Linked DNA regions of Homo sapiens. The protein of the gene in region 3 purifies or fractionates together with the protein of the main gene of each other region. This does not show direct contact. Each region holds a gene or a part of one and is shown on either strand. Other genes may lie near its edges.

Evidence for each region. The genes of interacting proteins can lie anywhere in the genome.
Region 1: the proteins of DROSHA (region 3) and ADAR purify together in Homo sapiens (affinity purification with western blotting, with the first as the bait; one study listed by BioGRID). This does not show direct contact.
Region 2: the proteins of DROSHA (region 3) and HNRNPUL2 purify together in Homo sapiens (affinity purification with mass spectrometry, with the first as the bait; one large-scale study listed by BioGRID). This does not show direct contact.
Region 4: the proteins of DROSHA (region 3) and PPFIA1 purify together in Homo sapiens (affinity purification with mass spectrometry, with the first as the bait; one large-scale study listed by BioGRID). This does not show direct contact.

Annotation. Positions count from the first base shown.
Region 1 is NC_000001.11:154,594,031-154,599,171, forward strand, and holds part of ADAR (double-stranded RNA-specific adenosine deaminase), read right to left. Parts: intron 4,556-5,141; coding exon 4,372-4,555; intron 3,947-4,371; coding exon 3,798-3,946; intron 3,238-3,797; coding exon 3,093-3,237; intron 2,966-3,092; coding exon 2,775-2,965; intron 1-2,774. UniProt on the Homo sapiens protein: Catalyzes the hydrolytic deamination of adenosine to inosine in double-stranded RNA (dsRNA) referred to as A-to-I RNA editing.
Region 2 is NC_000011.10:62,716,802-62,721,942, forward strand, and holds part of HNRNPUL2 (heterogeneous nuclear ribonucleoprotein U-like protein 2), read right to left. Parts: coding exon 5,019-5,141; intron 4,623-5,018; coding exon 4,494-4,622; intron 3,391-4,493; coding exon 3,222-3,390; intron 389-3,221; coding exon 188-388; intron 1-187.
Region 3 is NC_000005.10:31,507,615-31,512,755, forward strand, and holds part of DROSHA (ribonuclease 3), read right to left. Parts: intron 3,563-5,141; coding exon 3,421-3,562; intron 1,162-3,420; coding exon 1,007-1,161; intron 1-1,006. UniProt on the Homo sapiens protein: Ribonuclease III double-stranded (ds) RNA-specific endoribonuclease that is involved in the initial step of microRNA (miRNA) biogenesis.
Region 4 is NC_000011.10:70,276,205-70,281,345, reverse strand, and holds part of PPFIA1 (liprin-alpha-1), read right to left. Parts: intron 2,732-5,141; exon of another isoform or gene 1,943-2,731; intron 1-1,942. UniProt on the Homo sapiens protein: May regulate the disassembly of focal adhesions. May localize receptor-like tyrosine phosphatases type 2A at specific sites on the plasma membrane, possibly regulating their interaction with the extracellular environment and their association with substrates.

The sequences.
Region 1 (5,141 bases), on a different chromosome or scaffold from region 3:
ACCACCATGCTCAGCTATTTTTTGTATTTTTAGTAGAGATGGGGTTTTACCATGTTGGCCAGGCTGGTCTCAAATTACTGAGCTCAAATGATCCACCCACCTCGGCCTCCCAAAGTGCTGGGATTATAGGCGTAAGCCACTGCGCCCGGCTGACATTACTTCTATTAAGGAGAGACAAATTTAAAGTAACAAGATAGCATTTTTATAAGCTTTTTTCCTTAATGACTTTAAAATGGACAAGTTGGATGCCAAACATGTGAAAATTCAAACAGTTAAGAGTGTACAATAAAAGTGTCCCTCCTTCCCCAGAAGCAAACACAGTTGCCAGTTTTTTCGATCCTTCAAGAAAATATTCTAGACATATACAGACAATCTTCACCTCTCCCCTCACTTTACACCTTGCTTTTCCACTTTGTGATAGACCTTAGAGATTAAGAAAACATGCCGGTTGCATGGCAAGAGTGATGCCATCTTGATGCAAAACCACTATGACCACCAATATCTGACTCCCGCATCCCAAAGTGTTGGGTAGCATAAATAATTCCACACAAAGATGTCTACCAAGCCTCCCCACCAGCTAGTGCTCATAAGTTTCACAAGAAAGTATAATGTGTGACCAGCTGCATGTTTAACCAAAAAAGCCTCTATAGAAAGCATACTTTCTGGAGGGTAAGTGCAGGGATCCACCATCTTGCAGCCACCCAAGACATCATTTCTGTTCCTAAGTCCCTATTAAATGTTTACTTCTGAGAAACTGAATTTGTCAGCTTCTATTCAATGAAATACTATGCAGCTATGCAAGAAGTCTGGTAAGTAAAGGAGTCAACGTATAAAACAGAAGATATACTTGTTTAAAAAGACAAAAGGGAAAATGTGCTAGTTATGCACAGCAATTTCTAGAAGGACTCAAGAAACTGGTATAGTCATGTACTGCATAACAGTGTTTTGTTCAATGATAAATCACACATATGACAGGGGCCCCGTAAGATTATGATGGAGCTGAAAAATTCTTATCACCAAGTGCAGGGCTCTGTAACCTGTTAGGAACCTGGGCACACAGGAAGAGGTGAGTGGCGAGCAAGAAAGCATTCTGGTCCGAGCTCCGCCTCCTGTGGGATCAGCAGCAGCATGAGATTCTTGTAGGAGTGTGAACTCGACTGTGAACTGTGAATGCGAGGGATCTAGGCTACACGCTCCTTATGTGTTTACTATATTTTTATCATTATTTCAGCGTATACTCCTTCTACTTCTAGAAAAATAAGTAACTAAAAAAAGCCTCAGGCAGGTATTCCAGAAAGCACTGTTACCATAGGAGATGACGGCCCCCATGCATGTTATTGCCCCTGAACACCTTACAGTGGGACAAGACGTGGAGGTGGAAGACAGTGATACTGAGGATCCTGACCCTGTGTAGGCCTAGGCTAACAGCTAATGTATTTTCATCTTAGCTTTCAACAAAAAAGTTTAAAAAGTTAAAAAAATAAAAAAATTTACAAACAGAAAAAAGACTATAGAATTAAGGATATAAACAAAGGAAATATTTTTGGATAGCAGTACAACATGTTTGTGTTTTAAGCTAAGTATTATTACAAAAGGAACAAAAAATAAAAAAGTTAATAAAGTAAAAAATAAAGTAAAAATAAAGTAAAAAAGTTACAGTAAGCTAAGGTTAATTTATTAAAGAAAAATATTTTAAATAAATGTAGTTAGCCTAAGTGAACAGTGTTTACAAAGCCTACATTAGTGTACAGTCATGTCCTAGGCCCTCATATTCATTCTCCACTCACTGGCTGACTCACCCACAGCAACTTCTAGTCCTGCAAGCTCCATTCATGGCAGGCGCCCTATACAGGTGTAGTATTTTTTTAATCCTTTATGCTGTCTTTTTACTGTATCTTTTTGCTGTTTAGATAGACACCAATACTTACCAGTGTGTTGCAGCTGCCCACAGTATTCACTACAGTTACATGCTGTACAGGTTTGTAGCCTAGGAGCAACCGGCCATACCATACAGCCTGTACGTGTGTAGGAGCCCATGCCATCTAGGTTTATGTAAATACACACTGATGTTCTCACAACAACAAAACCATGCTTCTCAGACCGCATCCCAGTTGCTAATGCAGGGCTATAGTAATATATGGGTCTAGGGAGGGAAACTAGAAGTCTGAGACGGAAATGAGACTTTTCATTGAAATGACTACTTTTTCAATCAGCTTGAATGATTTTTTTCAAGATGGAGTCTTGCTCTGTTGCTCAGGCTGGAGTGCAGTGGTGCGATCTCAGCTCACTGCAACCTCCGCCTCCCAGCTTCAATCAATTCTCCTGTCTGCCTCCCGAGTAGCTGGGATTACAGGCACCCGCTGCCACGCCCAGCTAATTTTTGTATTTTTAGTAGAGACAGGGTTTCCTCATATGGTCCGGCTGGTCTTGAACTCCCGACCTCAGGTAATCTACCTGCCTCAACTTCCCAAAGTGCTGGGATTACAGGCGTGAGCCACCATGTCTGGCCTGAATGATTTTTTAATGTACCTATACATTTCTTTAAAAATTAAAACTAGTCAAAAAATTAAAAAGGATCATGCTTACTGGAAGAGTGAACGCATTCACTCTTGGCAGGTCTATTGTCTTCTAAGAGGCCGTGGAGACAGGGCTGGACTTGTTTCCCTCAACTCGCCCCTTCTGTCCTACACAGCTAAAGCACACCCTTGTTTTCCCTGGGTTACAGACCATCCCCAACTGGTGACACATGCATTAGCCAGGACTAGGACACTCACTTGGGCTCGTGAGGAGGTCCGGACTGGTCGACCAACTTGAATTCAGCAGCAAAGCCATGGGAGCGGGCGTACTCCAAAAGGCCACCCACAGGGTTGGTGTTCAGGTATCTCACGAGCTCGCCAATCTTCCTGACCTTGTTGGGCATCATGGATTCCAAGTTATCAAGTGACTCTGAGATCATACCTTCAGGCTAAAGGAGAATCCATCAAACAGAGGAGCCATAAACACTTCAGGAAATGTTGAGGGAGTCACTGGCAATCTTAAACCACTCAGTTGCTAAAAATGACCTGTATCTTTTGAGTAGGAAAACGCCCTACCTGGTTATCAGAAGCCATGGAGTTGGTCGCCTCCCCATGCAGGGCCTTCATGGCTTCCTCTGCGGCCATCTGCTTTGCCACTTTCTTGCTGGGAGCACTCACACTGGGGAAAGTTTGGGCTCCCACTGCAACACAGTATTGGAACCTGACAGGAGATGAAGCACGTAGAAGGATTAAAATGGTTTTGACTGAGGAGCCTGACCTAGCCTCTGCCAGGCTGCCATCCTCCACTACTGGTAATTTCCTTGAACACATCACCTCTGTGCAGTCACATCTCATGCAGTCACTTCTGCCTTGAACAGCCAGTGTCTCTTAGCCTGGCTGACCCCTTTCAACATTTAAGCATCAACCTAGTTTCACCTCTTCCAGGAACACTTCTCTTGAACATGTGAGTCTATAGACCCACAGGCAGAGAGCTTCTCAGGTCCTGTACCTTTCTGTCCCACCAACAGTGAGTGACCTCCAAGCCGTGAACCTCCCTAGTGCTTATAGAGGAGATAGAGGGTGGGCCAGGAATTCCCTTTGAATTCCTAATCCCTAATTGTCTGCCTCACAAGCAGCAACCAGGACCTCAGAGCCCTCCTTTCCCCATTTTGAAACAGGAGAAATTGGTCAATCTGCCATCCCTGAGGAGGCAAGGAAGAAAATGTGTCTCTTTTTCTTTCTGAGAAAACCTCAGCTGGACAGAGGACACGTAGGACATACTTGGGTTCATGGGCAGGGCCTTCTTTGGACAGGAGACGGAATTCGCAGGAGTTCCCCAATTTGTGCATACACTCAAGCAGTGTGGTGACGGGGCTCTTCCCAGAAAAGAAGGATGTGGCTGAAGGGGTGGGGGTCTGGGACTCTGCAGTCTAGAGAAAATGAGAGACAAGAAGAAAACAAAACTAAGAAAACACTGGTTAGTCCATCACAGAAGAAGGGATGGGGATGGGGGACTTTATTCCCACCACCTGTCAAGGGGTTGGCTTCCCAAAGTTAAAGGGGCTGCTGGAGCTCTCATTCCGCATCTTCCAAGAGAGGAGATTGGCCTCAATAAACTTTCAGGTCTCTTTCAAGTCCGAAATTCTGTAAATCCAATTATGTTGGGACAGGAGCAGACAGAGGAGCTGGGTATGAGAGGAGGAAAGGTGGGCTGGCGAGATAGGGTAGAGGGAAGAGTGGGAAGCTGACTCCGAGATGGTGTCAGTTGTTTAGGCTGGGATTGCCTCAAGGGAGTCAGTTACAATCCAGACACTGACAGGGAACTGATCCTCCCAGATGGCAGGAGGACACCTACCTTCTCTGATTCTTTCTCTGTGGAATAGTGGGATGATTCTTCTGATTTTCCACTGTCCTTGGCTTTGGCTTCCTCTAGCAGAATTGTCATGGCTTTCATAGCTGCATCCTGCTTGGCCACTTTCTTGCTTCCAGCTTCAGCTGGGGGAAACTCTCGGCCATTGATGACAACCTGGAATTTAAATCTTGACGGAAAGTGATTAGATGTGTGAACAGGAGTCTAGGTCACTCCTTCTGCCTTCTCCAAAGAGACCTTCAACCTGGAATTTTCTGCTACGCTAAGGGGCTTTTCACTTGTGGAGATGAAGGGTAGGCCAAGGAACTCCTTCCTACTCCTTAAGGCTCAGCCTGTCCTTTCTTTTTGTAAACAAAGCAGCCAGTGACTCTTTCCCCATAGCTCAGTGAAGCAAACATAGGCACAGATGATAGGAAACTAGCTCAGGGGAAACCCACTATCTCTTTAACAATGAATTAAGATAAAACCCACACACACAAAAATGATGAGCCAAAAATTACCATTATAGTCTTGTGAGCAACCAAAAGACCTTCATTCTAAAGCAATTGTGGTAGACTGGCCTCCTCAAGGGAGGGTCCTAAAAGATAGTGAAGGCTTCTTATAACCCAGTCTCACACTCCCCACTACCTAGGGGGATCAGGCATCTGCCACTTATCAGTGGCCTGCTTTTGTCCCTAGACCTATATCACCGTAGTTTGTTATGAGTCACTCTATAGCACCATTTGTCTCCAGCTATTTTCTACATAACAAGGAAT
Region 2 (5,141 bases), on a different chromosome or scaffold from region 3:
GAATTATGGAAAAAGCACAAGAAAAAGGCAGGGATAAAGAACACAGGAAGAAATAAGCTCCATGAAGAAGGCACTTCCGTATTGTTAATGACCTGACTTGGTTTCCTTGGCCTTCCCTTGCACATCTTGCTGTACTAAGCACAAAGAATGGACTGAAGTAGGGGGCTGGCAGGTCCCCAAGACTCACCATAGCCTTGGCCCCGGCTTCGGTTCTGCCGGTTACGCTTGTTTCGGTTGTTTCGGCGATTTGTCCGCTTCTCGGAGGGGGGCAGAAGCTTCCTTGCCTCCTCCTTGTACTTAGTGACAATGGGCTGAGCTTCCTCCTTCTCCAGCTCCCCATATGTCACCTCATCCATATAGTCGCATTTTTCAGGCAAAGAGAAGTTGGCTATAAGAGTAAGAGAGAAGCTTGTGGGCCTGAAAAGTGCATAGATGGGTAAGAACTCATTATGAAAACTCTACAAGAAGCATATGACTTTCTATGCCTCATCTATTACTGCACAAAAATGTGCTACGTTTATACCCACTCGCATCTAAATAATGACATTAACTTTTTCTACTCTAAGTTTTCCCTAAATTGTAACAGACCCAGGCAAAGGGCTATGTAGATTTACAAGTTCTTAAGTGATCTATAATAAATTAGGAGTGAACTGGGTTAAAGTTTCTCATCAGGACAGAAGCAGGTAACCAGAGGCTAAAAGTAACTGAGAAAGTTCTGGTGTTGGTCAGATAAGATGCTAAGAAATAACATTTTAAAAAGAGACTCAGAGATGGCCGGGCATGGTGGCTCACGCCTGTAATCCCAGCATTTTGGGAGGCCAAGGCAGGCGGACTGCTTGAGGTCAGGAGTTCGAGACCAGCCTGGCCAACATGGTGAAACCCTGTCTCTACTAAAAATACAACAATTAGCCAGGCATGGTGGCAGGTGCCTGTTATCCCAGCTACTCGGGAGGCTGAGTGCCACTGCACTCTGGCCTCGCTGACAGAAGAGAGACTCAATGAGAAACTGACCCAAGCCTAAAGGCATCTGCTCATCTATACAAGGAGAAGAGAAGACAAGAGTACAAGGGCTCTCATTTACCACCTGTCCGTGATAGGCCAGCACATCTGCCAGTCTCTGGACGTCAACTTCAGAAGCTGAGTCCCAGTGGAAATTCAGTTCAATGGGGCTCTCATGATTCTTAGATGAATCCAGTTGGCCCTCAATTTTATAAAACTGAGCTACATTTCTCTGAGTGCCTAAGTAAGAGTTATGGACTGGCATAGTTCATTCTCAGTAAACTCTGAGGATCTGGCTCATAGATATGCAAACCAGTTCCCATGCCTGGGGATTATCAGTATTTGAAGAGCAAGCAGTTGCTAGACTCGGTGGGATGTCAGGAACTAAAGGCAGCAATGGGAAAAAAAATCACGTTTTAAGGGAATAGGAGGATCAATCAAAATATTAATATTTCTTATGTAGACATTACTCTCTGTCTTATGTATTGCATTACAGACTTCAGCCAAATTAACAAACAAAACACAAACATAACGTGATACCAGAAATCAAGTTATACCAATGAGATCATTCACTCCAACTGCCATATTTTAATCTGAACCATAATAATCTCTCCCTGCGGCCAGGCGCAGTGGCACACACCTGTAATCCCAGCACTTTGGGAGGCCGAGGCGGGCAGATCACCTGAGGTCAGGAGTTCGAGACCAGCCTGACCAACATGGCGAAACCCTGTCTCTACTAAAAGTACAAAAATTAGCTGGGCGGGCACCTGTAATCCCAGCTACTCAAGAGGCTGAGGCAGGAGAATCGCTTGAACCCGGGAGGCGGAGGTTGCAGTGAGCCGAGATCGCGCCACTGTACTCCAACCTGGGCGACAAGGGCAAGACTCTGTCTTTAAAAAAAAAAAAAAAAAAAGCAGAATAAGAAATGTAGACAAACAGTAGATGTACCAGAAATATTTACTTAACAAATAACTGATTCACAGAAGCCTCTCCCTTGATCCTTTGAGTTTAAATTACCCTACGGTCACTTTTTTTTTTTTGAGACCGAGTCTTCTCACTCTGTTGTCCAGGCTGGAGTGCAGTGGCACAATCCCAGCTCACCGCAAACTCTGCCACCTAGGTTCAAGCAATTCTCTGCCTCAGCCTCCCGAGTAGCTGTGATTACAAGCGCCCACCACCATGCCCGACTAATTTTTTTTGTATTTTTAGTAGAGACAGGGTTTCACCATCTTGGCCAGGCTGGTTGTGAGCTCCTGACCTTGTAATCCACCCACCTCAACCTCCCAAAGTGCTGGGATTACAGGCGTCAGCCACCGCGCCTGGCTCACTATTTCCCTTTCTGTATCTTTTTCAAAACGAGCCAAGGCGGCTAGGCACAGCGGCGTATGCCTATAATCTAAGCACTTTAGGAGACCAAGGCGGGCAAATCACCTGAAGTCAGGAGTTCCAAGACCAGCCTGGGCAATATGGCGAAACCCCATCTCTACTAAAAATACAAAAATTAGCTAGGCATGGTGGCACATGCTTGTAATCTCAGCTACTTGGGAGGCTGAAGCAAGAGGATCACTTGAACCCAGGAGGTGGACGTTGCAGTGAGCTGAGATCACACCACTGCACTCCAGGCTGGGCAACAGGGTGAGACTCTGTCTCAAAACCAAACCAAAACAAACCAAGAAAACAATGAGTCAAAATTATTGCTTCTCTCTGTTCATTCATTTATCTACAAGTGCTCACGACCATTAAGTTCCTCTTCAGATTTACATTTTAGATGTAGAGTGTCACTCCAGTTGCTAAGAGACCTCAATAAGGTGTGCACTGACCAGGGATAAGATCTCTTTAACTTGTACAATTTTAGCCCACTGCTATGGTTTGAGTTATGTCCCACCAAAGTACAAGTGTTGAATACTTAATCCCCAATGAGCAGTATTGAGAGGGTGGGACTTTTAATGTGATTTGGTCATGAGGATTCCATCCTCATGAATAGATTAATGCCATTATTGTGAAAGTGGCTTTGTTATAAAAGCAAGTTCTCTCACATGTGCCCTCTTGCCTTTTGCCCTCCTGACATGGAATGATGCAGCAAGAAGGACCTCACCAGATGCTAATGCTATGCTCTTGGACTTCCTAGCCTCCAGAATGAGGGAAATAAACCTCTATTACTTACAAATTATGAAGTCTATGGTATTCTGTTATAGCAGCAGAAAATGGACTAAGACACCCACCTTTCATCTCCAGCATTATAGATTCAGGCACATCATCTCCCTCTACTTCCTTCCTCAACTCCAGCCTCTTCTTCCAATCTTCCTCATTAGGGACAACCACCACCACTTTCCGAGAGAAGGTCTTGAACAGCAATAGCTTCCGCCGTTGGCCAGAATTGTACACATTACACTAAGAACAGGAGGAATAACTGATGTTTAGGAAGAAAATTATCACTCAGATTTAACCAAAAGAATCAGTATCAGCTGGGCACGGTGGCTCACGCCTGTAATCCTAGCACTTTGGGAGGCCGAGGTGGGCAGATCATCTCAGGTCAGGAGTTCAAGACCAGCCTGGCCAACATGGTGAAACCTCATCTATACTAAAATACAAAAATTAACTCGGCATGATGGTGGGTGCTGTAATCCCAGCTATTTGGGAGGCTGAGACGGAAGAATCGCTTGAACCCAGGAGATGGTGGTTGCAGTGGGCTGAGATCACGCCACTGTACTCCAGCCTGGGTGGCGGCTGAGCAAGATTCCATCTCAAAAAAAAAAAAAAAAAAAAAAAAAAAAGGCCGGGCGTGACAGCTCACGCCTATAATCCTGTTATCCCAGCACTTTGGGAGGCTGAGGCAGGTAGATCATGAGGTCAGGAGATCAAGAGCATCCTGGCTAACACGATGAAACCCTGTCTCTACTAAAAATACAAAAAATTAGCCAGGCATGGTGGCGGGCACCTGTAGTCCCAGCTACTCGGGAGGCTGAGGCAGGAAAATAGCATGAACCTACGAGGCTGAGCTTGCAGTGAGCCGAGATAGCGCCACTGCACTCCAGCCTGGGCGACAGAGCGAGACTCGGTCTCAAAAAAAAAAAAAAAAAAAAAAAAGACTCAGTATCTTTGACAACTTAGACACGAGATAAAGGGTCAATACACATGATCTTCTTTAACTTTTCAAACTACATGACAGGTATTATCCTGTTTTGCTCATCAGGGAAACTGAGGTTCAGAAAGGATAAGGGACTTATCCAAGATCACAAACCAGAATGTGGTGGAGCCAGGAATTCAAATGAGTTCCAACTCTTTCCATTGTCTTTATTACATGTTTTATAGCCTGGGTCCATATATTTTCAAGTAAAAACACTAATTAGGGGTACCTCTGAGTTCAAAAAACATTGCAACCATAACACACAACCAGATGGTCATAATTAGGTAAGCTGACTCTGCTCCTTAATTCAGTCTCTCTTTATATACACATCCCACCTTGACTCTAGGCAATTTTATCAGATTAATACCTGATCAAGAATAAAGTTCCTCTTTGTCCGGGAAGCAATCTGGACCAGCTTACTAAGGCACTGGGAGGCTTGCTGAACTAAAAGGTCTCGGCTTTTGGGGTCCATCTCTGGCTCCTCGAGACCCTTCATCTGATTAGTTTGAGAGGAAGTGAAAAAAAAAAACAAAACACAAGTTATATTGCAAGTTAAAGCCCAAGAGTTATTGGTAAATGTCACCTCTTCAAATACTGAATCTATGATATCACTCTATTCCCATTCTTCAGTGCTGTGAATGTTGTCCATTTCCTGCAGTAGTCATTTCTATCTAGTCTTAACCTGGATGTATTTCAGATCTCATCTGCTTTCAGAAATTTGACAACACAGCAAAGAAAAAAAAAATCAATCCACCTAAAACGCATAGAGAAAAATCTCATTTCTCTATTTCTGGGACCCTTGTTCTCAGACACTTGAGACTAATTCTCCATTAAAGATAGGTTATAAGAGTCTCCAAATACTGTATCCGACAAATCCCCAACAGCAACTTACCCTCATTTGATTGAGCACAGTCTCAGCTCCCAGGACATTGTATCTTTTCTCAGGGTTTTCTTTTGCATATTTCAGTGCCCACTGGGTCTTTCCAGATCCGGGTAGTCCCACCATCAGAATCAC
Region 3 (5,141 bases):
CAAAAAAAACAAAAAAACAAAAAAACCCATATATGGAGGAAGTTTATTTTACGGGGGACAAAAAATGTTCTAAAATTCAATTGTAGGGATAGTTGTGCAACCCCATGAATATACTAAAAAATGCTGGATTATAAATTTGAAGTACAATTGTATCATATGTAAATTATAACTCAACAAAGCTGTTTAAAAAGAAAACCAAGTTTTAAAATGCATTGGCAGTTCTGCAAACATTTCTGCTCAATTCCAAAGAGTAAAAGGAACACACAAAATACATTTCTGCCAGACGTTCTATAAAAAAAAGATGGATAGCTGTCATCTAACAAGAACCAGGAGAAAAGCATTTTAATTAATATAGAATGTTATAAATTTACTCACAAAATATAAATTTTAAATTATCTTTTTACAGATATGCCTTAGCTTCCTAACTTTACATGCATTAAAGATATAATTTTTGTATGTATTATATATCTGTGTGACACAAATCTTTTTTAACAATGCTAATTTTATTATGTATTACTTCATATTAAGACAGTAATTAAAAATAAAAATAATTATGTCCACCTATTATGTTTTTAGCTCAAACATGCTTAACAAGGAAGAGAACTTGTGACTGTTACCAACTAAAAAAAAGAAATCTTATAGGACTTATTTACTATTTTGCAGCAAGATACCTTCCAGGTGAACTACTTCTAAAAAGACCTCCAAGTTCTCTCTCCTCATCCTACCATGTGTCTCCTTCCATCTACTGCAATTTAATGAGGCAGGGCCATTACTCCTCTCCCCAACATGGAATTTACAAACATCATCAAAAATGATTCAAGGGACAGCTGCTCTGGTGCTTATGCTTTGGAACTAACCTGAAGCTGAAAAGAAATAGCTCTGAAGGACAAAACCCTGACAGTAAAATTCAGTTTCAATACTAGGCAACATGTATCTTCTGAGCCCAGAGCAATAACCGTTATGTCTGGGTTTGCAACCTTCACAGCAAGGGCATAAAAACACGCACCTGGCCTGGATCGTTGTACCAAAGTTCATCATGAAGTCGGTCAGGGTGGGCCTTTTTGCGTTTGATTTCTGCAATAACGTCAAAAACTTCAGAGTCTGAGCTGCTAGAACAGGTGCTGTCCTCATCAGACTCACACTCGGATTCACTGGAACTCTCTAACAGGGGTTGGGAGAAAAATACAGAAATTGATGGAATTAACAAACTGGTTTTTTTTTTTCCCTGAGTTGGAGTCTCGCTCTGTCACCCAGGCTGGAGTGCAGTGCGCGATCTCAGCTCACTGCAAACTCCACCTCCCGAGTTCAAGTGATTCTCCTGCCTTAGCCTCCCGAGTAGCTGGGATTACAGGCGCCTGCCACCACACCCAGCTATTTTTTGTGTTTTTAGTAGAGACAGGATTTTGCCATGTTGACCAGGCTGGTCTCGAACTCCTGACCTCAGGTGAAACACCCGTCTCGGCCTCCTAAAGTGCTGGGATTATAGGCATGAGCCACCGCACCCGGCTGACAAACTGGTTTTTGTGGAGGCTTCCAAATGACCTAAACCTCTAAAGGTAAGAAGAGTTCTTTATTCTTCTAGAAAATACTTAAAGGCCTACTCTACACCAAATACTCTACTAAGCAACACCATAAAAAAAAAATATAGCCCATAATGCTAAGTCACAATCTAGTTGGGGAAGCAAAGAAAATAAAGATCTTTAGAGAGAAAGTAAGACTTGATGAGCAATGTCAGATAAAATGAAAAACCATAGTAGTAGTACGTAGTTTAACACTTAAGCTATGTAATGATCCATAAAAGGGCAGTTTCACTGGGATCCAGAAAGGCTGGTGATAATTTCAAAGAAGGAGCACATGTGACCCAGGCACTGCAACAGGATGGGAGAAGCATGATAAGGAGGAGAAAAGAAGAAAGGAATGAAGAGGGAGCATCGTAGGCAAAAGCGTGGAGCTAAGAACACAGTGGACTAGCTAGAGCGCGGGCCACACGGAAAAACACTGGGAGGTTAGGGGCTGGGAGTGCTGGGAATGCCACAGCGAAGGCTGGGAATGCAAGACCAAAGACTTGACATTTCTTTTCCCTCAATAACAGCAAGAGAAGGTGTTAGTCCTTAAAGTGACTGAATAAAAACAGACACAGACTTATGCTAACTGAAATATGCCAGTCACAAAAAGACAAATACTACATGATTCCACATATATGAGATGCCTGAGAGTCAAATTCATAGAGGAAGAAAGTAGCATAGTAGTAATAAGGGAACGGGGGAACTGGGGTCTGGGGAGTTATTCCTTAACAGGTCCAGAGTTTCAGTTTTATAAAAGGAAAACAGTTCTGGAGACTGGTTGCAAACAAGGTCATGTTGAACCCTATTGAACTGTACGCTTAAAAATAGTTAAGATGGTAAATTTTGTATTACTTATATTTTACCACAATTTGAAAAAAAAAAAAAACAGACCTAGAAGTTAGATTAATCCTACATAGTGAGATTCCATCTCCACAAAAAGAAAAATAATTAATTTTTAAAATAAATTAATCCTATAAGAGATTAACATAGTAGTAGCATAATGAAATCCAACATGGAGTTGTATTTACATGTACTGCATGAGATAGATGCTACTGTCTACTGTCATCCCTATTTTACAAATGGGAAAAATCTAAGGAGATTAACCTGTGGCCCAAGGTCACATATCAAGTAGGTGGTAGAGCAGGGATTCAAACCCAAGCCATCCAACTCCCAACTCAGGTGTCTTTGCCCAGTATGGATAACTGCCTCTCAGCGTGTGGGATGTAATGGAGGTGGGCAGATAAGAGCTAGAGAGAACATGTAGCTAAATGCACACTGAATGTCTCATCTGTGCATGGCATTCTGTTAGGGGCTAAGGATACAAAGTGATAAAAAGCAATTTCCATTCTCAAAGATCTCACAACCTACTTGGAACCTCAGAACATACACATGAAAAAATAGACCACCTTATGAAAAAGCTATGCAAACTGTCTACACAAGTGGAGAGAAACCTTCAAACAGAGCTGGGGTACAGTCGCTGTTTCCCTCATCAAACCAGGCGCACCTGGCAAAGGAGAGGGCCAAGGAAGGACACCTGTCCTCATGAGAGGCAGGGGGCATGGGCTCCTGCTCTCGGAAAGATGCTGAACTCTTCTGACTGGACAACTCTCCAAGGGGCACCCTTGTTAGCATGCCTTGCAAATGAGATCGCTGCTGTATTCTGCCAAATGAACTAAGGAAAAATACGATCAAAAAGAAGGAAGTTCTACTGCTATGTATCTTACTGACTGTAATTAAGAAAAATAAAATGAAAAAGAAGAAATCTCAATGTGGGACTCTCAAGGGTATTTCCCCAAAATTTAGGAATGAAGCTATAATCGCAAGGGTCTCAGGCTAGTTAGTGACTCTGACTCACCTAAATCTTCATCGAGCTTCGTCTTTGGAGGTTCCCACGGAGGCCGAGCAGCTTTGGCCTTTTCTTGCCTGCTCCCCAACTCCTCCTCAAATTTGTCATATAAGTCACGAAGCCTACTCGTTCCAACCACTGTAGAATCTCCCTTTTAAAAATAAAGGATCAATATTAGGAACTATATCAATAACGATCATATCAAAGATATGTAAGATCTCACAGGTAATCAAAGCATTTTTAACAGCAAGATGCTATTTTTCAACCCTAAATTTAACAAACATTTAAAAACAAAATGCTCAAGTACTGGCAATCATACTCTGAATCAAACACACACTTATCGCTGACACAGTCTTCAGGTAAATGTGCCTTGCCAACATTCAGAAACATTAGAACAGGCCAGGCGTGCTGGCTCACGCCTGTAATCCTAGCAACTTTGGGAGGCAGAGGCAGGAGGATTGCTCGAGGCCAGGAGTTCAAGACCAGCCTGGGCAACATAGCAAGACCCCACCTCTATGAAAAAGAAAAAAATTAGCCAGGTGGTGTGTGCCTGTGCTACCTGGGAGGCTAAGGCAGGAGAACTGTTTGAGCCCAAGAGTTGGAGGATGCAGTGAGCTATGACTATGACTGTGCCACTATACTCTAGCCTGGGTGACATAGAGAGACCTCATCTAAAAAAAAAAAAACAGAAAAGAAACATTAGAACAGTTCATCTATGCCCTATTAATATGACATTTTTTAAAAAATCATGACCCTCAGAGAATCATGACAACTGACATCAAATACCCTCATAGGGAATGTACACTTCCTACTGAAAATCACTGATAACCTATCTTCTCCTATATCAATCCATCGAGCAATAAGAAATATCCTATATATCCCCTCTCTCTCTCTCTCACACACACGCACACACACACACACACACTCTCATGCCTTAAACACGAGGACATAAACATGCACACACTCTCTCTCACACACACACAAACACATACCACAAACACGGGACTCTGCAACAGATTCCTAGAGAAAATTTTCCACTTTTCCTCACTCAATTTCCAGGTTGAAAATCACTTTACATCTCCACACTCTGACTTAGTAGCCTTAAAATGTAAAAACCAGACCTGTCAAATGTAAAATTAAGGCAAATCATAAAATCTGGTACCCAGAAGAGGGGATAATTCAGGCCCCATCTCATTGTTGGGAGTGGCGATGCCGGTATAGCTTTGACATTCTCACCACCTTCTCTGCACCACACAGACGACAAAACTCAAAGGCAAATGTCAGCCTTTTGAGTTTATCAGTCTTCCTCCTACACTGGAGTTTTAATATACTCATAACGATGTAATAAAAAACAACCAGCCCTGCCTGTTTAAACTCCCTGAACTTCAGTGTCTTCATCTTTATTGTTTTAAGAATAATAACACCTATGGCAGCCATTCTTCCCTTCTTCCTAATAGAAGCAGGATTCTGTAAGATTTGGAGAAGAGAACTCCTGATCTCTGGGAAGGTAGGCTGAGCCACCAGCCCCTCCCAAAGATGTCCATGTCCTAATCCCCAGAAATTAAATATATATGTTAACTTACATGGCAAAAAGGATTTGCAGCTGGGTGGACCCAATCTTAGAACAGGAATCCTTAAAATCAGGGAACCTTTGCCAACAGGGGTCAGAGATACAACAGAAAAAGAGGCAAGAGATATTCAAAACACGAGAAGGACTCGACCACCATTGC
Region 4 (5,141 bases), on a different chromosome or scaffold from region 3:
CTGACGCTTACTGACTGAATCCCAGCCTCTGGTCACCCAGGCCCTGACTGAGCTGAGATGATCTGTCCCTACTCTGGGCATGTGCCAGATGACAGAGGGAAACTTTCTGAAGGAAGACAGCATCACCCAGCGCTTTCTACAGTTTTTCATACATAATGTCTGACTCAATTAAAAAAACAAAAATGGGCGTTATCAACAAATGAACCTAGAGAAAAAAGAAAAACAGAAATGGATCCGGAGGTGACCCATATAATAGAGTTATCAGATGCAAATGTCAACTATTCAAAAATATACTTGACAAAAGGAAAAAATTTCACTAGAGAACTAGAATAGTAAAAGGAATTAAGCAGACTCTAGAACTGAAAATTATAACTGAAATTAAGAACTCAATCTATGGGCTAAACAGCAGATTGGACACAAATGAAGAGGGGATGAGTGAGGTGGAAGATGGGTCAGTAAAAAAAATCTGGACTTTAGATTTTGGGCACAATAGCTCACACCTGTAATCCCAGTGCTTTGACATGTCAAGGTAGGAGGCTCACTTGAGGTCAGGAGTTTAAGAACAGCTTGGGCAAAATAGCAAGACCCTGCCTCTACAAAAAATTTAAAAATTAGCTGGGCACAGTGGCACATACCTATAGTCCCAGCTACTCAGAAGGCTGAGGCAGAAGGATTGCTTGAGCCCTGGAGTTTGAGGCTGCAGTGAACAGTGATCACGCGCGCCACTGCACTGCAGCCTCGGCAACAACAGGGTGCCTGTCTTTTTCTTTTTCCCCGAGACGGAGTTTCGCTCTTGCCACCCAGGCTGGAGTGCAATGGCGTGATCTTGGCTCACTGCAACCTCCGTCTCCCAGGTTCAAGTGAGTCTCCTGCCTCAGCCTCCCAAGTAGCTGGGATTACAGGCATGTGCCACCATGCCCGGCTATTTTTTGTATTTTTAGTAGAGACAGGGTTTCACCATGTTGGCCAGGCTGGTCTCGAACTCCTGACTTCAAGTGATTCACCCACCTTGGCCTCCCAAAGTGCTGGGATTACAGGCGTGAGCCACTGCACCCAGCCACCTGTCTCTTAAAAATTTTTATATACATATATATTTATATATATATATGTATGTACGTATATATATATACACACATATATACACACATGCTAGCTCATGCCTGTAATCCCAACACTTTCGGAGACTGAGGCAAGTGGATCACTTAAGTCCAGGAGTTTGAGACCAGTCTGTGCAACATGGCAAAACCCCACCTCCACTGAAAATACAGAAATTAGCCAGGTGTGGTGGCACGCACCTGTAGTCCCTGCTACTCAGGAGCTGAGGTGGGAGGATCGCTTGAGCCCAGAAGGCAGATGCTGCAGTGAGCTGAGACTGCACCACTACACTACAGCCTGGGCAACAGAGCGAGACCCTGTCCCAAAAATATACACACACACACATCCCCCACACACACACAGGCCGGACACGGTGGCTCACGCCTGTAGTCCCAACAGTTTAGGAGGCCAAGGCAGGAAGACTGCTTGAGCCCAAGAGTTCAAGACCACCCTGGGCAACAGAGAGACCCAGTCTCTAAAAACTAAATACACACACACACACACACACACACACACACACACACACACCTAGACACATACACAGAAAAGGTCTAGAAAATACGGAAAGGAGCACAAGAGACACATAGGACATGATAAAAGCCTAATGTATATCACACCATTGCACTCCAACTTGGGCAACAATAGCGAAACTCCATCTCAAAAAAAAAAAAAATGCCTAATGTACACAAAAATGGAGGCCCTCTGAGTGAAGATGAGTGGAAAATAGGAATATTTATAGAGAGAAGAGCCAAAACTTCCAAAATTGATTAGGAACCAGGCCACCAATACAACAAATACCAAGTTTTGCTAATGCCTGAAGCAAAGAAAATGTTACAAGCCACCAGAGGCAGCTTCAAATCCTGGTGTGAGGAATGAGTAGATGGTGAGATCTTGCTGTGTGTCTGATTAGTCCTTTCTCTGCCTTGCCTGTTTGAGCTTCAGCAGAATTGAAAATGGCTGGCAGTAAGGCTGGGAAGGACTCCAGAAAGGCCAACAAAGGCAGCTTCCCACTCACAAGAGAGCCAATTTGCAGTTCCTGGTGGGCCGTATTCACTGACACCTGAAATCTAGGACAATCAGTCCTGGACGTGTGGGCGCGACTGCCGCTGTGAATAGCACAGCCATCCTGGAGTACCTCACCGCAGAGGTACTTGAACTGGCAAGAAATGCGTCAAAAGACTTCACAGTAAAGCATACTACCCCTCATTACTTGCAACTTGCCATTCGTGGAGATAAAGAATTGGGCTCTCTCTTCAAGTCTACAATTGCTGGTAAAGGTGTCATTCCACACATCCACAAATCTCTAATTGGGAAGAAAGGACAACAGCAGACTGTCTAAAGGCTGCCTGGATTCCTTATTATCTCAGGACCCTAAACACTCTACCAGCTGTCCAGTGTGGCTGATTCCAGTGAACTATATCTCTGTGAAAAACACAATTCTGCCTTTCTGTAATTCTACTTGAGCAAGTTGGAAGTTTAATTAGCTTTCCAACCAACAAATTTCTACATTCAAGTCTTAACCATATTTGTTACTGTGGCTTCAAAGAAGCTATTGATTCTGAAGTAGTGGGTTTTGATTGAGTTGACTGTTTTCAAAAAACTGTTTGGATTTTAATTGTGATGGAGAGTTATAGTAACAAACATTTGGTTTTGCACAAACATTATTTCCACTCTGGTGGATAAACTCAGTAAAAGTCATATCCTCTCCAAAAAATAAAAATAAAAAGCAACCAGAGGGGAAAATAAAAAGAAGTATTACTTCAAATGGGACAACAATAACACCAAAAGCTGACTTGTCAAGAAAAAGGAAGCGAGCTAAAAAAACAATGAATTCGCTGCTACAAAATGGTGCAAGGAAATGACCACGATCCCAGTATTCTATACCCAGCAAAATCATCCTTCAAAACTGAAGGCAAATTGGGCACAGTGGCTCACACCTGTAATCCCAGCAGTTTGGGAGGCTGAGGCAGGCAGCTGCTTGAGCCAATGAGTTTGACCCCAGCCTGGCAAACATGGTGAAACATCACATTTAAAAAAAAAAAGGCCAGGCATGGTGGCTCACGCCTGTAATCCCAGCACTTTGGGAGGCTGACGAGGGCAGATCACCAGGTCAACAGATAGAGACCATCCTGGCCAACATGGTGAAACACCTTCTCTACTAAAAATACAAAAATTAGCTGGGCGTGGTGGCACGTGCTTGTAGTTCCAGCTACTCGGGCGGCTGAGGCAGGAGAATTGCTTGAACCCGGGAGGCGGTGGTTGCAGTGAGCCAAGATCACATCACTGCACTCCAGACCGGCGACAGAGCGAGACTCCATCTTAAAAAACAAAACAAAACAAAACAAAACAAAAACTAAAGGCAAAATAGAAAATTTTCAGGCAAACAAAAATGACAATTCATTATCCACAGATATGAACTCAAAGAAATACCGTAGAAAGTTCTTCAGGGAAAAGAAATATAGGCTGGGCGCAGTGGCTCACATCTGTAATCCCAGCACTTTGGAGGCTGAAGCAGGCAGATCACTTGAGGTCAGGAGCTTGAGACCAGCCTGGCCAACATGGTGAAACCCAGTCTCTACTAAAAATACAACAATTAGCCGGATGTGGTGGCATATGCCTATAGTCCCAGCTACTCAGAAGGCTGAGGCAAGAAAATCGCTCAAACATGGGAGATGGAGGTTGCAGTGCGCCAAGATCGTGCCACTGCACTTCAGCCTGGGCAACAGAGCGAGACTCTGTCTCAAAAAAGAAAAAAAGAAAAAAAAAAAACAAGAAATATAATCCCCGGCAGAAACATGAAACAACAATAAAGAATGAAGAGCAACAAAAATGGTAACTAAGAGGATAAATCTAAATAAACATTAACTGTACAAAATAATTATGATACTGCAAAAGTATATCTAAAATTAAAGTACATAAACTTGTAAGATGCAGCTAAAAGCGTGTAGTGGCTCACGCCTGGATCCCATTGTTTTGGGAGGCTAAGGGGGGAGGATCACCTGAGGCCAGGAGTTGAAGACCAGCTGGGGCAATACAGCAAGACGCTGTCTCTATTTTTAAAAATAAATATAAATTAAACTGAAATATATAAAACAATGACACAAAAGGTAGGAGGGAGTTAAATCCAGTTCAAGTATCTAAGGACTTGACCCTGGGAGACACAATGAGACTGTGCCTGGAAAAAAAAAAATATATATATATATATATATATATCTCAATCAAACAAAAAAAAAGCAAAAAAAAAAAAGTAGAAATTAATGCAATAGAAAACAAATGTAAGTAGAAAAAAATGTAAAGCCGAAAGTTGGTCCCTTAAAAGAACTTACAAAATTGACAAACCCCCAACAAGACTGATTAAGAGATAATATATGAATTACTGATATCAAGAATTATTAAAAGGGAACATCACTACAGATCTTGCAGATAATAAGGATTACAAACCACTTTAAACTTACAAATTGGAAAGTCTGGGTGGCCTGAACAAATCTCTAGCGGGGAAAAATGCTTTATCTAAATAGACACATGAAGAAATATTCAAAATCCTACATCTACCTATAAAATTAATTCTAAAATTTTTCCTTCTCACAAGGAAAACCCTGTACCAGCTGGTTTTGCCAAAGAATTATTTCAAACATTTAAGGAAGAAAACACAAATTTCGTAGGAACTCTTCTAGGGAGTAGAAAAAGAAGGAATACATTCCACCTTGTTTTAAGAAACCAGCATAACCTTGATACCAAATCCCAACAAGGGTACTGAAGGAAACTGAAATTATAAGTCAATCTTTCTCGTGAATATAAATGCAATAATCCTAAACAAAATACTACCAAATATAATCCAGTAAAAGGAGAATACATCAAGATCAGGTTGGAATTATTCTACAATTGTAAATTTTTTTTAAAAGGGAGGTGCTCTTTCTCAGGAGCTCCTGAAGTTGCTTCCCCAGGCTACAAACAATATGCAATTAAAAAAAAAAAAAAAAGCAAGGCGCAGTGGCGTGCGTCTATAATTCCAACTACTTGAGAGGCTGAGGTGGGAAGATCACTTT